2 separate regions of the Homo sapiens genome follow, and region 2 is linked to region 1. The links come from fine-mapping of genetic effects on gene expression. Tissue or cell type: lymphoblastoid cells. Region 1 holds a variant in brackets; the other region holds the start of a gene. All regions are shown on one strand. Distances are between the middles of the regions.

Region 1 (8,109 bases):
GAGATGAAAGGAAAAGAAAGAAAGAAAGAAAAGAAAAGAAAAGAAGGAAGAAAGAAAGAGAAAAAATCACCTGAGGTCAGGAATTTGAGACCTGCCTGGCCAACATGGTGAAGCCCTGTCTCTACTGAAAATGCAAAAATTAGCCAGGGGTGATGGTTTGCAGTGGTGGAAGGAATGAAGGAAGGAGAGAGAAAGACAGAGAGAGACAGAGGGGAAGGGAGGAAGGCCATGTGAGGACAAAGAGAGAAGGTGACCATCATGAAGGCATTAATGCTGTTATCATGGGAGTAGTTTCCTGATAAAAGGTTAAGTTCAGCAACCTTCCCCCTCTCCCTTCTCTTTCTGTCTCTCCCTTGCCCTCTTGCCTTCCACCATGGGGTGATGCAGCTAGAAAGCCTTCATCTGACGCCCAGTAGATGGCCTTGGACTTCCCAGCCTCCAGAACCATGACCCAAAGAAATGTCTACTTATTATAAATTACCCAGCCTGTGGTAATCGGTTATAGCAACATGAAATGAACTAAGATACTTGCTCCTTGCTACTTACCCCCAAAAGTTGAAGACAAAAGTCTGCACATGGATGATTATAGAAGTTTGTTGGTTTGTTTTTTGAGACAGAGTCTTGCTCTATTGCCCAGGCTGGAGTGCAATGGCACGATCTCAGCTCACTGCAACCTCCGCCTCCCGGGTTCAAGTGATTCTCCTGCCTCAGCCTCCCGAGTAGCTGGGACCATAGGTGCACACCACCACCCCTGGCTAAGTTTTGTATTTTTAGTAGAGACAGGGTTTCACCATGTTGGCCAGGCTGGCCTCGAACTCCTGACCTCAGGTGATATGCTCACCTTGGCCTCCCAAATTGCTGGGATTACAGGCGTGAGCCACCATGCACAGAAAATTATAGAAGTTTTATTCATAAATTCTCAGCACTTGAAAGCAATCAAGATGTCCTTCAGTGGGTGAATGGATAAATAAACTGGTACATCCAGACAATGGAATATTATTCAGCACTAACAAGAAATGAGCTATCAAGCCATGAAAAGACATGGAGAAAACTTAAATGCATATTACTAAGTAAAAGAAGCAAATCTGAAACAGCCACGTCCTGTATGATTCCAATTATATGACATTCTGGAAAAGGCAAAACTATGGAAATAGTGAAAGAATCAAGGGTTGGCAAGGAGGAAGAATGAGTAGGCAGAGCACAGAGGATTCTTAGGCCAGTAAAACTATTCCGTATGATACTATAATGATGGATGCATGTAATTATGCATTTGTCAAAACCCATAGAATGTACAATACCGAGGGTGAACCATAATGTGATCTGTAGACTTTGGGTGATAATGACACATCAGTGCAGGGTCATCAGTTGTAACAAACGTAGCACTCTGGTGCAGGACGTTGATAGTGGCAGAGGCTATGCATGTGTGAGGGCAGGGGAGATATGGAACATCCCTGTACTTTCTGTTCAATTTGGCTATAAACCTAAAACTTTTCCAAAAATTAAAGTCTATTTCGAAGAAAACAAGAAATACCCATGATCAGTTTTTCTTGTCCCTAGGTGAAAGATGTCATAAGCTAGGGGAGAAAGAATAACAGAAGAAGAAATAGTGAGAGTAGATGCCAACCGGTACCCAAAGAAGTGCACTGTGCCTTGATCCAACGTTAAGGCATGTGACAAGGGAGGGACTGTGCCTGTTCCTGAGTAGAGCCCAGGAAAATTCCATGCTTCAGTGTTTCCTTGCACCAAATCATGTGCAGGTATGGTAGCGGCTGGGGTAGCTGCAGGTCATGTCTAGACAAGCAGGTCCGAGACTGCCTTCTTGTAGAATTCCCACAGGTCGCAGAATGTCGTGGGGTTGGAGGAAAGCCCAAGATTGGCACAGAGATAATACAGAACCTCCTCAAACAGCTCCCCAAGGCTCCTGCTGCCTGTGTGGCATGAAAGACACCGAGAAAAAGCCAAACCAGGAGAGCCTTGAAGTGCAAAAGTGACCCCCATGGACAAACATTCAAATCCCAGAGGAAACAGAAACTTCAGAGTGGATGCAAGAGAGGCTGCAGGATGGTGGCTGAAGACCAGAGGTCCCAATTTCCAAACCGATTTCCCCTCCTCCACTCCCCACCCCAGAATAAAAGCCCAATTCCTGCTTTGAAAGGAAAGGCCCTAGATTGGCTATGACTATGATTCTTCTGTTTACCAAGGGTGAGAGCTCAAAGTACCAAAAAAATGTTTAAGTTTGCTTACAGAAAAAGAAAGTTTTGTTTTATATGTATCTGAATTAGTTGGCTTTTGATTTTTCTTCTTCTTTTTTTTTTTTAGGCAATATTCACTGATCCAACCCCGAATGCTTTTAGTGACAATGATAATGAAAAGGATTCTGAGAGATGAATGAGACTCAGTATAATAAGAAGGAGAGAAGGCCGTATTATCGTTTACCTTACGAAAACTGGTAGCATATGTTTATTTTTTTTTAAAGCATTGGCTCAAAAATAAGATACAACAAAGATCATATGTGATATGGTTTGTTTCCCTTTCAAAATAGTAATGATGGTTAATCCAAGTGATTTATATGTATCATATGCCATACGGGAAGATCTCATGTCAACAAACTGTCACCATACCTCCTCCACAGACAGGAGCACAGGCATGCAGGAATAGAAGTAGCTTATTTGAGAGCCACACACCTAGCATTTAATGGAAATGTAGCAGAAATGCAAGCTGTGTGGCCGCAGGACATAAGTTCTTGGCCCCCTGTTGGAGGGCCTCTGATGCCTTAGCTTGCAACTGTGTGTAATCAATGGCCTAAGTTTTTGTTAGCTCATGTCAGGCCTCCACTCTGATATGGTAGGTCCACCAAGACTTGCTCTTGCTCAGCAACTTTAGAAAGAAAGACCCTGACTTCAGAGAATTGCCCAGGACAAGCTCCAGATGAGGCCTGAGTTCACTTCAACAAAAAATATTTCATGAAGACAAGTGCTGATGGCTGTTGCAGAAAGTAGGAGGCTCACTACAACTCGAGAGGCCAGCCAGGGTCACTCCTGCCCTCGTGGCTCTACTTAGGATTGACAGTGAAAAAGCAAAGTATACTTAGTTCATGGACTATTTTGGGCCGTCTCTAAATAAGCCATGTGAGAGATAGTGGGTCAAAGCTAATTTGTTTTAGATGGAGTATGAAGAGGAAGTACGGAACACAGCTTGGTGGGGTTAGGGCTCTTTCTCTTTGCTTTATAATTTGGCATTCAGAATCAATATGAATAACATGAGTGAAGAAAGTCAATTAATAGCCCAAGTTTTATTGCTAATAAAAGAACACGTACATACATAAAGCCCGATGGTCGATCTTCCCTGGAGGTGTCCGAGCTACTTGGCCTGAGGCCCAGGCATAACTTCAGTACTGTTTGTCCTGCTGCCACCAAGTGCAACGTCCTCACCTGCTGCTGGGCACAGGGGATGGAATCTGACCCGCTTCTGGGTTATTGTTGGACAAAAAGTGGTCTGGCTGTAGGTCAAAACAAATTTGGCCCTTTAAAGTCTCTGAGGGTTGGGGC[G/A]AGTCCTGAAAAACAGTCACAAGACCATAATAGGTTCCTTATGAGCACTTCTGTTCTCCAACGACATTGAGCCTGGTGTTCACAGGCGCTGACCTCAGAAGTGCGTCTCAGAGGCAGCCTGGGGCTGTAGGGAGGCACAGCTATAAATGGATGCTGTGCAGCTGTGAGGGGAGCTATTTTGGGATCCCAGGGGGTCTCATTTGTACTTCAGGTTAGGAAGCTTCCAGGTGAAGGCGTGTGATGTGGGAGTGGAAAGGGAGACCAGACCAGACCAGACCAGACATAGCCCTCCCTCCTCCTGCCCTCTTCCCCTGCTGGTTCCCCCAAGCCGTGTCCCCCTCTTTCTTCAAAGACTTCACCAGCACAGGGTCCTGGAGCCTTGTGGAAATGCAGGAGAAACACAAAAGGGGGAAGAGGGAGAAAGTGTCTCCCAGCCCCGAGTATTCAAGGAAATTGCCTCCTCAGCTGTGTTCTAGATAAGACTGTGCTGACCTTTGCAGGATGGGCAGAGATGCCAAGGCCTCAGGCTCTGTTGCCTTTTGCATCCACTTCAGTGGCTTTCAAATTGGAGGTAACCTGGAAGCTGACGTGAGAAGAGAGGGTGTCAGACCCGCCTTCACAGTTCAGCCCTGGCCCACTCTAAGGGACGAAGGAGTTGGATCCTTCTTCCTCACAGGCCTAGTGCCTCTGGCTTCAGTTGGTGTGACCTTAGAGCCCTCTGAGCAGTACAGCTCTGAAGGACATCTCCTCTTTCTCCCCACTTCAAGCTAACCTGAAATTACCTCACTGGTCATGTTAGATTAGAGGCAATGGCAGAGTAATGGTTTCTCCTATTGGCCCATGCTTAATGGATCAGATTAATGGCTGCCATTTTGAAGACAGCAGATGTAATTCAGCAGCTTACATTGCTTTACACATGTACACTTCAGAGACACACAGGTCTGGGTTAGAATGCTAGGTTGCTACATCTTAACTACGTGGCCTTTGGCAAGTCATCTCCCGGAGACTCAGGACCTCACTTACAAAATGGGAATAACTATCATTCTGCCTCAGGGGTCATTGTGACAATTAAATGTGGCAAAATACTCAGCACCATGCATGGCACATGGTTAGTGCTCCAAATAGGTAATTCATTTTTGTGATGGATATACTATATCCATTCTTACTAATGGATGGGGAAAGAGAAGTGAAGACAAGAACTCTTGCGGTTTGGGGCTACCCAAGACCCTAGTTCTGACATACCTTGTCACTGTTGAAGGACCCTCCTGCTATAGGCCAAATATTTGTGTCCCTCCAAAATTCGTATGTTGAAACCCAATCCCCAGTGGGATGGTTTTTGGAGGTAGGGTCTTTAGGAGGTGATTAGGTCATGAGGATGGAGCCCTCATGAATGGGATTAGTGTTCTTCCATGAGAGACGCTGGAGAGCTCCCTTGCCCCTTCTGCCATGTGAGGACTCAGTGAGAAGAAGACTTTCTATGAACCAGGAAGCAGGCCCTTGCCAGACACTGAATCTGCTGATGCCTTGATATTGGACTTTCCAGCCTCCAGAATGGTGAGAAATAACTTTCCATTGTTAATAAGATACCCAGTCTGTGGTAGTTTTTTATAGCTGCCCAAAGGGACTAAGACACCTCCTGAACTATGAAAAAGAGAAGTAATAAGGTGAGGAGAAGGGACCAAGGATGTAGTCCAACTCTCTCTGCCTTCTCATAGGCCTGAGGCTGGCCTGCAGGTTGAGCTCTGAAGAGTTTCTGATGTCTACAGCCCAGAAGACCAGGTGTTCTGAAGATTCCTGTCACCAGTGCTGAGATGTTCTGAATGAACAGCTCTACAGGAGAAATATAGCAATCAAACTACAAGGTACTATAGAAATAGAGTCCATATCCTCTCCTTCTTATGAGGAGATAAAGGCTCAGAGAGGTGAAGGAACAGCAGGGCCAAGACAAAGAACCAGGTCTTTCCCCTCCCAGGTCAAAATGCATAAGGTGTTGTAAACCAAGACAATTGTTAGACTAGAGTCTTAGAAAATCACTTGAGTTTACCCAGGTGACTTTTTGTTGTTTTTAGGTACTATCCAACTGAACATGGTAGAATGAAGGAATTGATTTTTCATCAGAAATCTATAGTTTGTAAATATAGCATATGGGGGTCTAAATTGTATTATTGTCTAAAAAAAAATCTTATTGGTGGATGGGAAGGTACAGTTCAGCCCACATTAAAGAGACTCATAAATCTATGAGGAAACTTCTCCAGCACCCCAAACACGTCCAGTGAAAACTCTGACCTCACCAGCATCTTGCAAAGGCCCACAATGAGCAAATGAACCTAGAAGGGGGACCCTGTAATTGAAGTGTTTGGTAAACAAGGGTCTTGGCAGCAAATATCAAGAGCCAGCTTGAGCTTCAGGAGCTTCTTGATGGTGGAACTTCCCCAAATTTGAGTTGATCCTGAGCAAATATGAAACTGTGTGCTGCTCAAAGAGTGTCTTGATTCTCAAGGGAACATAGCTTATCCTCATAGCCTTGGGCTTTCCAAAGGTCATATGAGGAAACTGTCTGCATTCCCTCTGTAAAGGCAAAAGTAATTATCTCTTATGTCCTTCAATGTCCCTTACAGTGTGACCTCATAATATATCATCCAAACCAAGACATGTTGAATATTAACAATTTCCTTGGGACAGCAGGTATAAACTGTGACTATCCTGGGCACACTAAGGTGTGTGGTTACTCCCACTTTAAAAAATCAACATGCGCAATCCATACCACCAATTAAAAAGAGCCAACGTGATGATTCCCTCTTGAAACATAAAACTTGGAGCTGTATGTCTTCTTTGAATAAATGCCTTTCTTTTTTAATCAGGCAACAAGGAGAGGAGACAGAAGCTATGCAACCTGATTTTTTCCCTTTTGCCTGAGCTCTGGGAAGTTCAGAATGAAGTTTTACTTCAGTTGTCTTGGATTCCCGGTATAATTGTCTTCTTCACCCCCATGTTCTGCTCTGAAGAGGCTCCTAACACAGCACATCGAGATAGAAAGCTGATTTTAATAAATGACTTCCAAATCCTTCTCAAGCAGGTCGATACAGCAAGCACACATCCTGGATTTTGTGTCAGTCTGATATCACTCACATATTCAGCCTTGCTTTCCTGATAAACTATTTGAAGATCTAAGGAATTACACTTCTTTGTCTTCCAAAATGATTGCATTAATCAAACACCTTTTGAACTCCTGCCATGCACTAGAAAGGTGACAGGGATATTATCAGTGAACAAAATAGACAAAAATTCCTCCCTTGGTGGAGTATACATTCTAGTGACGGAGATGAACAATAATTGATAAATTCACCAGATAATCAAATTATATAACAGGTTACGGGGTGATCATTGCAATGGAAAAAATAGCATAGGGTAAGGATAATTGGGAATGTCAATGGTTGGTTTGGAGGGTAAACTTTAAGTGAAGTGGGTAGGAGTCATTGAAAATATGACATTTGAGTAGAGTGAACATATAATTTATCATCCAAACTGAAAAACATTTAACAGGACAAAGGGAAGCTATTCATAATTATGCTGGGACAGCAGGTGAGAACTTGGACTGTCCTGGGCAAACAGGGACATATGATTGCCCTACATGTAAGCAAAGACTTGAAGGATGTGAGAATCAGCCTAGCAGATACATGGGCAAGGAAGGGTTCGGGCAGAGGGAGCAGAAAGTTCCAAAGCCCAAGCAGCCTTGCAAAGTAAGAAGATGCCCAGTGTGGCTGGAGGAGAATAAGCCAAAGAAGAGTGGTAAGAAATGAGGTCAGTGAGGTTCTGGGGACCCCAGATTGTGCAGCCTTTGTAAGGGTTTTGGTTTTTCTCTGATAGAAACAGGGAGCCATTGCAGGGTCTTGAGTCAGGCAGTAACATGATCTGGCTTATGTTTTACCAAGATTCACTTCGGCTGCTGTGTTGACAATAGGGTTGGTGTATCAAGGACTTGGAACCAACCCAAATGCCCATCAATGATAGGCTGGATAAAGAAAACGTGGCACATATACACCATGGAATACTATGCAGCCATAAAAAAGGATGAGTTCATGTCCTTTGCAGGGACATGGATGAAGCTGGAAACCATCATTCTCAGCAAACTAACACAAGAACAGAAAACCAAACACCACATATTCTCACTCATAAGTGGGAGTTGAACAGTGAGAACACATGGACACAGGGAGGGGACCATCACACACTGGGGCCTGTCGGGGGTGTGGGGGGCTAGGGGAGGGATAGCATTCAGAGAAACACCTACCATATCTAATGTAGGTGAGGGGTTGATGGGTGCAGCAAACCACCATGGCACGCGTATAACTATGTAATAAATCTGCACGTTCTGCACATGTACTTCAGAACTTAAAGTATAATTAAAAAAAGAAAATAGCGTTGGTGAGAAGGAAAGTAGGGAGGCAAGTTAGAAGGGAGCAGAGCCATAAAAGGGGTAAGAAGTCAGATTCTGGACATATTTTGAAGGTAGAACTGATAGGATTTTTTGTTGATTTGGATGTCAAGTGCATAAGGCCAGTCA
Region 2 (8,109 bases), 990 kb before region 1:
ACGGTTTCCATGGGAAAAAACTTTCTGAACTCTAACAGTGGAAGTTTGTCTGAAATAACCTTTCATTAACTTGAGATTGTTCTTACGCCTTACAAATTATGATCTATAAGGCCTTTTCCCAAAAACCTTGAGGAAAACTCTAGATTTGAAATGTATCAAACAAATGTCCATCATATAGAAACTGACAGGTTTTAGAAGAGCTAATCATTACTTTGGTTTTTCAGAGGAGTATTTATCATACTCATTATACCTCATACTAAAAAAAAGTATGCATTAGGAATTCTAAAAACTGGTGCCAAAAGTTATTTCAAGTTAGAAAGGCAAAAAACAGGCCAGGCACGGTGGCTCACACCTGTAATCCCAGCACTTTGGGAGGCCAAAATGGGCGGATCACCTGAGGTCAGGAGTTCAAGACCAGCCTGGCCAATGTAGTGAAACCCCATCTCTACTAAAAATACAAAAATTACCAGCCTGGCCAATGCGGTGAAGCCCCATCTCTACTAAAAATACAAAAATTAGCCAGGTGTGGTTAGCTACTCAGGAGGCTGAGGCAGGAGAACTGCTTGAACCCGTGAGGCAGAGGGTGCAGAGAGCTGAGATCACGCCGTTGCACTCCAGCCTGGGCAACAAGAGCGAAACTCCATCGCAAAAAATAAAATAAAATAAAATAAATAAACCTATTTAAATACAAAATATTTCCATTCCCTTACTTTCTGGTGCATATTCAAATACGAACACATCGATTATCACCATAAAACAGCCTGCCTCTTCCTGTTGTGACCAAGATATAAGTATCAAGTACAGAATGCGGCAATGGATCTGCAGACTCTTGATGACCTTCTTATTTCCCAAGCTATGCAAAGGTATTTACAACATCCAAAACTGCACCCCAAAAGGTATTTCCAACTGCGTGGTGTTCAGCAAAGGACATGTTCATTCATTTAGTTCCTAAAACGAACTGAAATTAGCATAAATAAATGAAGATTTATATGGCCAGTCCTTATCCCTGTACTTTCCAAGTACCTAGCAAGTACTCTGAGAAATATTCAAAAATCTTTCTATAAGCCCCATTTAAGGTATAATGCTGGAGTTTCCCACTCTATTTTTCCACTGTTAGTACAATAAAACTACCTAATAACTAACAGAGCTGTTGTATTCAAAAAAGTATTGTTTCAAACTCATGAAAAGCTGTTTATCATGTACCTTCCCATCAACTGATGAAAATGATGTATTTCAAGACCAAGAAGGCATAAAGTAGGATGTTAGATCCCTGTCGGCAACAACTGAATGTCATTACCATCTGTCAGCTTCTGAATAGGTTACAGGAAACAAGGTGACAGACAGGCTAATTCTTTATGGATAAGTATCCATATTACATCATCACAACTAGTACTCATTTGCACCTTCACAAGAAACTGCCACAAAGGGGAACAAAAACATTCAACTGATATGTGCATTATGAAAAAGCTTTTTAAAATGGTATAAAAATATAAATAAGCTTCTGAAGTGTAGAATATTTAGACTTACAAGGCATATTTCAGATTTGCCATTTTTGATATAACTGAAATCAAAGGGAATATTTGCACAGTTTGAGGAATAAAATGAGGTATAATTCAGAAGTGTAACTCTGTACAGATGGCCTGATCCCAATACAAGATGTTAACAAAGCAGGCTGGCGGGGGAGGGGGGTAAACCTGCATTTTCTATGCTGTATTTTAGCTGATTCCCCCCACCGCTTATTTTTTAAAAAAGCAGGGGGAGAGGGCATGAGGGGTAATATTTAAGATTCAATAACTTCTAGTAAACAGAAAATAAATCTCCTTTAGATTATGTGTGCCAAGTGAATCTACTTACTGTTTTCAAGTGTGTTTGGGAAGTCATTTCGTGTTACTCTGATAAATAACATTTGGAAAATATGACAAGTAGATTTTAGTTTCTTGCCTCAGAAGTATTCTACTAAAAGAAGTAACTAGGTAGTATTTCAGTTCCATTTACCTAATAAATATTTTTCATTTAAAAGATAAAAAATGCGGCACAAATACCTATCATGCTGTTCAATGATGAGAAAGTAATTTTCATTTGTAAATTATCCTAGTCAATGCAAAAAGCTACTTGAAAAAGATAGTCAAATTACCATCAGCAAGAAATAATGGGTGAAGTGCCAAACGTCTTTCATGAAACTCCTTAAAATGGCTTACTTGTATGTAATACAAAATTATGGCTATTTCTGAAAGGTTTCAGCATTTAATTACTTAGCTCCAAATTGGCACATCACATTATTTTTGTTAACTCCCAAGTCTTGAAAACAAAGGGCCTAAAATTTTCTGAGAAAGCTTATATTCCTATTCTTGAAGCAAATTTTTCTCATTCTTTCACAATCGTCCCAATGGACAATCTAAGACAAAGACCAGCTACCCTTCACACTTATTTGCTCAATCATGAACGTAGAACTTTCGTAAAAACAAAGAAGATAACCTGGAACACGGTAATGTATAAACTTAAAACAAAAGTTCACTTCTGTCGTGAAAAATAATGAAGAAATCTGATGAGATCATAAAGCCACGAAGCTTCCTGTTGGTAGCTGAGGATGAAGTCATTAGCAACCCAGGATTCCCTGGTCCATGTAATCAGAAGCTGCACCTACCAGATTCTGTATTGTTCGGGAGAGGTGGCTTTAAAACACCCCGCTCACCAATTCTCCAAACCAGACCACGCCTTCCAGTTATCATTCAAATGGGACCGTTTCACAGTGTGGCACTACTACACATTTCCCGCGAGCTTAAATATCAAGTAGGAGTCAAAATTTTAGATTCCCTTGGTCATGCAAGATGAACTCTTGAACCCCACGCTACATAATGCACCCGGACCTTAAAGGCCGAGATGGAGAAGCATGCTTTGGTTCTTCAACCTTTACGGCCTTCACTACCCCCACCCCAACCCCCGCCCCATTTCTTCCCAACTCTCAGTCACCCCGAGGCATAGAAGGCAAAGAAAGATTCCTTACTTCCTGCTGTTGTTAAAAGGGGAGGAAACCTAAGAGCAACTTTGAACGCGTGGAAGAAAAATCGCCTAAATCTTGGCCACCAGCGCAAACATATGTCACCCGGCCCTGGAGCCGCGTTCGCGCCCTGCCGGGCCCCCTCTTCTGCCCTGCGCCCCGGGGATTCTCCCGTAGCCCAGCCCTCCCGGGCCCCCCAGTGTCTCCGGGACGCGGTTCCGCGACTCTTCCTCTCCCGCCTCCGCAACCCTCACACGCCGGAGTCCCCAAGACCGCATTGTCGGCCACCCAGGTTCCAATACAATGGATCGCCACTGCCCCAAACTCTCCGGCGCCCCCTTCGGACCCCCGGCGCCAATCCTGGGTCTCACAGATCCCGAGTTCAGCCACGAGCCCAAACTTCACCATGTGAGAGCCCAGGACCCAAGAGGTGACGGAGCCCCACGACTCCCGCCCAGCTATTCCTTCACCCGCCGTCCCCAGGCGCGAATCCTGCACCGGGCGCCCCCACCTACCCGCGACCACCCCGTAGGAGTCATCAGCCGCCTCCCCCGAGCTGGCCGAGGGCGAGCGGAGGGCTCCCCGCCCGGCCCAGACCTCTGGGCGGCGCTGCAACCGAGCGAAGGCCCCAAACGCATCCCCGGCCTTTCCTGGTCCACCGCGACCCCGCCGCCCACCCTCCCTACCTGGCCTTGAGGCTGGGGCTGCTGCCGCTACTGCAGCTGCCACTGCTGCAGCTGCTGCTGGCGGCGGCGGCGGCGGCTCGGGGTTCGTACGCCCAGGCTGGGGCGGGGGGCTGCGCAGCGGCGCTGGCGGGGACGGGGGCGGCGGGGGGCGCGGGCGGCGGCGGCGGCGGCGGCTCGGTGAAGCCCGAGGTCGCGTAGTTCCTGTCCATCGTGGGGGTGGCGTAGGGAGGGCGGGCAGCAGCGGGGGATCCTCCAGGGCTCCGTGTGACGGGGGCGGGCAGGGAGAGGGGGCGGGGGAGGAAGAGGGGGCGGCGGCGGTGGAGGGAGCTGCCCCCTCACATGGCCCCGGCGAGCAGGCGGGAGAAGGGCGCGCTGGCGAGTCTGGGCCGCAAAGACCCGGGCCGCGGCGGGCGGCGAGGCCCCAGCTGGGCGTCAGGGAAGCGGAGGCACCCGCGGCCGGGACTCGCGGCGACGGCGGCGGCGGCGGCGGCCGCTGCGCCCCATGTTGGTGGATTTCCCAGGATGCACCTCCCGCCCCCCTCCGCCCCGCGGCCTTGCCCCGCCTCCCCTCTGAGCCCCGCGCTTGCCGCTCGCGGGGCTGGCGGGCGGCCGCGAGGCCTCCGCCACCGCAGGACGCTTCGCGAGGGACAGTTGGGGCCGAGAAGGCGCGGGTCCTGCGGGGCCCGGCCGACTTCAGGGACTCCGAGGGGCGCCCGCCAGCCGGAGCCCGCGAACCGCAGACTTCCCGCCTTCCGCAGCCCGGAAGGGAGCTGTCCGCACTCGCCGCGGCCCGCGTGGGAAGGGACCGCGCCTGGCTATCGCCCCGCGCGGGGGAGGGGAAGTGGAGTGGAACCCAGCGTAGGGCGCTGCTCAGGGGTAGCCGGGTCAACGCTTTGCTTGGAGCTCACTATTTGACCCTTCGGGTTATTTTGAGGGACTCCAGTACTCAGTTCCCTGATCGCGATTTCTTTCTCTGCGCCCCAATCCAGAAACAGCTGAGCGAGCTCTTTTGCAGTTCCGCTTACTCCCTCCCCAAAGCTTGCTGGGCTAGAGGACCCTTTTCCTGCTGTTAGGGGAGATTTATATTCAAAGAGATTCAAATTCAAACGTATTATTTTCCAATCCTCGCTGAAAGGGCCTTTCCCAAGGGCTCTTATTAACTGTCCCCACCCCCACCTTGGGGATTTTTCTCGCTCTGGGTTTCAGAATCTTCTATCCCAAGATAGATAACCACCTCTTCATTGATTAATCCAACTACCATCTGGATGACTTTAATTACAATAAATTTAAACTCACCATGCACTCTGATGTTGAGGGGTTTTGTTTGAGACTTGGAACTTCAGCAGGACTCTCTCCCCAAACATTTCCTATCTGATCTCCAAGCTGCTTGGTGTGCGGTAATTTAATGACTATTTGCGGTTCTTCTGTTGCATAGCAGAGTTGTATTTCTTGTAATAACTCACAAGTATTGAAACTAGGGAATCGTACAAATCATCGTTTGGCCCTTGGGCCATAAATTTAAAGGTTAAAATAACAGTAAAATTTCTATTTAATGACCACCTCCTTTTAAAAATCAATATTGGTTTAACACCTATTATGTGCTTAGCACAGAAATCTATCCCTCAAGATAAGCATAACATAAAGGTTTAAGCAAATCAGCCGTAGTGAAAGACCTAATAAACTTGATACGCTATCTCTGATGACCATTGAAAAAGTTTAAACTTTGGTAATAATCTGGTGTTGGATCTGCTATGCCTTGCGAGATTAATTTTGTTCTGGAAGATCCTGTTTTCCTCCTGGCGCCTACATCCTTTTGTTCCTATTCATTCCTTTTTGCAAGTCTTTCTGCACCTGTGATGCTTGGAGCCTGGTCCCCGGGTGGGGAAGCAAGGAAGTGAGTAGTCGTTATTTACACATGAATTCAAACGTGTAGGCACAGCGACTTTGCCAATTTTATGTTAATTACAAAATGCATTTACTGAGGATATCTTTGAAAAGTGGTTTTTCTTTGAAAAGGAATTTGCGAACTAATCTGAGTTCATGCAGAGAAGTAACGTAAATCTTCATTACATTTATTTTTCTTCCTGCAAACTGGAAATGTGGGATCTAAATTAAAAAGTTTTCACAACTAGCTATTATATTTATAAGTACTTTTGTGAGCGCTAAAGTTTTGTCTCTATGAAAAGTATAGGAAATGGAGTGGCATGCTATAAATGTTTTATGACACTTAGTTTGAGATACCCACAACTGGCACTCAGAGTGAGTTACGCAGGCAATACCAAACAAGTGGCAATAAAACCTTTATAGTCCCTCACACCATTATGTAGTTTGTTTATGTCACATAAATCAGGGAAAGATATTAAGGGAAAATTCTAGTGAGTATTTTTAGTAATATTACTCTGTCACCATATGTTCCTTTGCCATTTAAATGAAATTTCCTTAGTTCACTCTAAATCAGTACAATTATATTTATTTTCAAATGTTACATGTCTACAAATAACATCATTACATTTTTTATCAATACTATTTTTAATTGACAAATCATAATTGCATACATTTATGGGGTACAATGTGATGCTTTGATATATGTAAATAAATCTTTTAAAAATTTTGTACACTTGATGATACTATCTGAAGAATGTCTTCTTCCCTACTGAAAATATACTTCCAGCTCTGTGAACGTTTCGGGATCTCTCAAATGATTCGTAACCAAGCTGCTTCAAGTCTGATCTAGGTAATGTCAAACTCTAGAATGAGCATTGTTGGTCCCGTGTTTTTGTTTGTTCGTTTTTTCAGACAGTCTCGCTCTGTCGCCCAGGCTTGAGTGCAGTGGGGTGATCTCGTCTCACTGCAACCTCCGCCTCCCGGATTCAAGCGATTCTCCTGCCTCAGCCTCCTGAGTAGCTGGGAATACAGGCGCATGCCACCACGCCCAGCTAATTTTTTTGTATTTTTAGTAGAGACGGGTTTCACCATTTTGGCCAGGCTAGTCTCGAACTCTTGACCTCAGATGATCCGCCTGCCTCAGCCTCCCAAAGTTCTGGGATTACAGGCGTGAGCCACCGCGACCTGTGAAATACGTATTGATTTTCTAATGGGATGGGAGTTAGGGTGGAAAATGTGGGGAGATTGTTCATGGGCATGTTCTAAGGCATGACTAACTCTAGACAATAAACTCAGAAGGAAGTGGGAGATGGAGGTGAGGAAGAAGGAAAGAGTTTTTTTTGTTTTTTTTCAGACAGGGTCTCGCTATGGTGTCCAAGGCTGGTCTTGAGCTCCTGGCCTCAAGCAATCCTCCCACCTCAGCCTTCCAAAGTGCTGGAAGATTCCTTCTTAAGTGTAGGATTTACTCCAATTCATCTTAAAACCAAACTGCCTTTGATTTAATCAATTTTCAAATCTTGCCCCGATTTTAGAATTGAGATAGAGTGTTTTGGTTTTTCTTTTTTGGGGGGGAAAGGAAAGGAATATGTAAATGACTAATTGGAACTTCTGAATGGGCATTTTTTTTTCTTAGATAGCGTCTTGCTCTGTCGCCCAGGCTGGAGTGCAGTGGCGCGATTTCGGCTCACTGCAAGCTCTGCCTCCTGGGTTTTACGCCATTCTCCTGCCTAAGCCTCCCGAGTAGCTGGGACTACAGGTGCCCGCCACCACGCCCAGCTAATTTTTTGTATTTTTAGTAGAGACGAGGTTTCGTCGTGTTAGCCAGGATGGTCTCGATCTCCTGACCTCGTGATATGCCCACCTCAGCCTCCCAAAGTGCTGGGATTACAGGCATGAGCCACCGCATCCAGCCTGAATGGGCATTTTTAAAGTAGCTTACATATTTATTCATTCAATAGATATGTATTTAGAGCCTAATACAGTGCCAAGCATAATACTAAATGCTGTGAATACGAGGGTAAATTTAATACAACGCCTGTCTTTATGGAACCTGTAATTTATGAGGAAAAGAGGCAGACACACAACTAATTGTAATGCAATAGGATAGTGTTAAATATAATAGAAATTGGAATAAAGCACCAGAGGACAATTGAAAAGGAAGTAATTGATTTTGCCTCTCAAAAAAAAAAAAAAAAGAAAATAAGTATTTCAACTGGTAGAAAGATTGTAGTTCTATTGAGTACATAGTTCATTGCCTTCCTTTTGTAGTTGAGGAAGCTGAGGCCTGGTATTGAGTGACTTGCTTTAAGATGATGGAGGGAATCAGTTGGGGTGAGACCCAGGAAACCCCATCTTCACTGAGGTGGCCTTGTTCATTAGCTTGTTGGGAAATGCAGAATTTGGGGTTGCCTAACTAGAAATGTAGTCAGTAAGTCCACACATTCCTATGTTATAAATAGACCAACCATCAAGAAGAAAGATCCAAGAAGGTCAAGTTTGTGGTTTCACTGAGAATACAAGGAATATGTGTGTGAGAAGTGA

Direction of the effects. Alleles are on the strand shown, and positions count from the first base shown. SD is a standard deviation of normalised expression in the study named.
As copies of A replace G in region 1, the expression in lymphoblastoid cells of the gene that starts at base 4,208 in region 2 goes up (moderate effect, 0.70 SD a copy in GTEx).

The links. PIP is the estimated chance that this variant, and not a neighbour inherited with it, causes the effect.
Region 2: QSER1 starts here. The variant in region 1 is fine-mapped to the expression of QSER1 in lymphoblastoid cells (GTEx, PIP above 0.99).

The regions. Positions count from the first base shown.
Region 1 is chr11:31,898,841-31,906,949 of GRCh38, reverse strand. No RefSeq gene overlaps it. Among named protein-coding and RNA genes, the nearest start is that of PAUPAR, 76 kb to the right of the region's middle. The variant G/A (reference allele first, on the strand shown) is at 3,549.
Region 2 is chr11:32,888,910-32,897,018 of GRCh38, reverse strand. QSER1 (glutamine and serine rich 1) reads right to left here and starts at 4,208. Exons shown (of 13, transcript NM_001076786.3): 1 at 3,685-4,208. The coding sequence starts at 3,893. RefSeq lists silencers at 3,436-3,835, 3,916-4,535 and an enhancer at 5,283-5,857.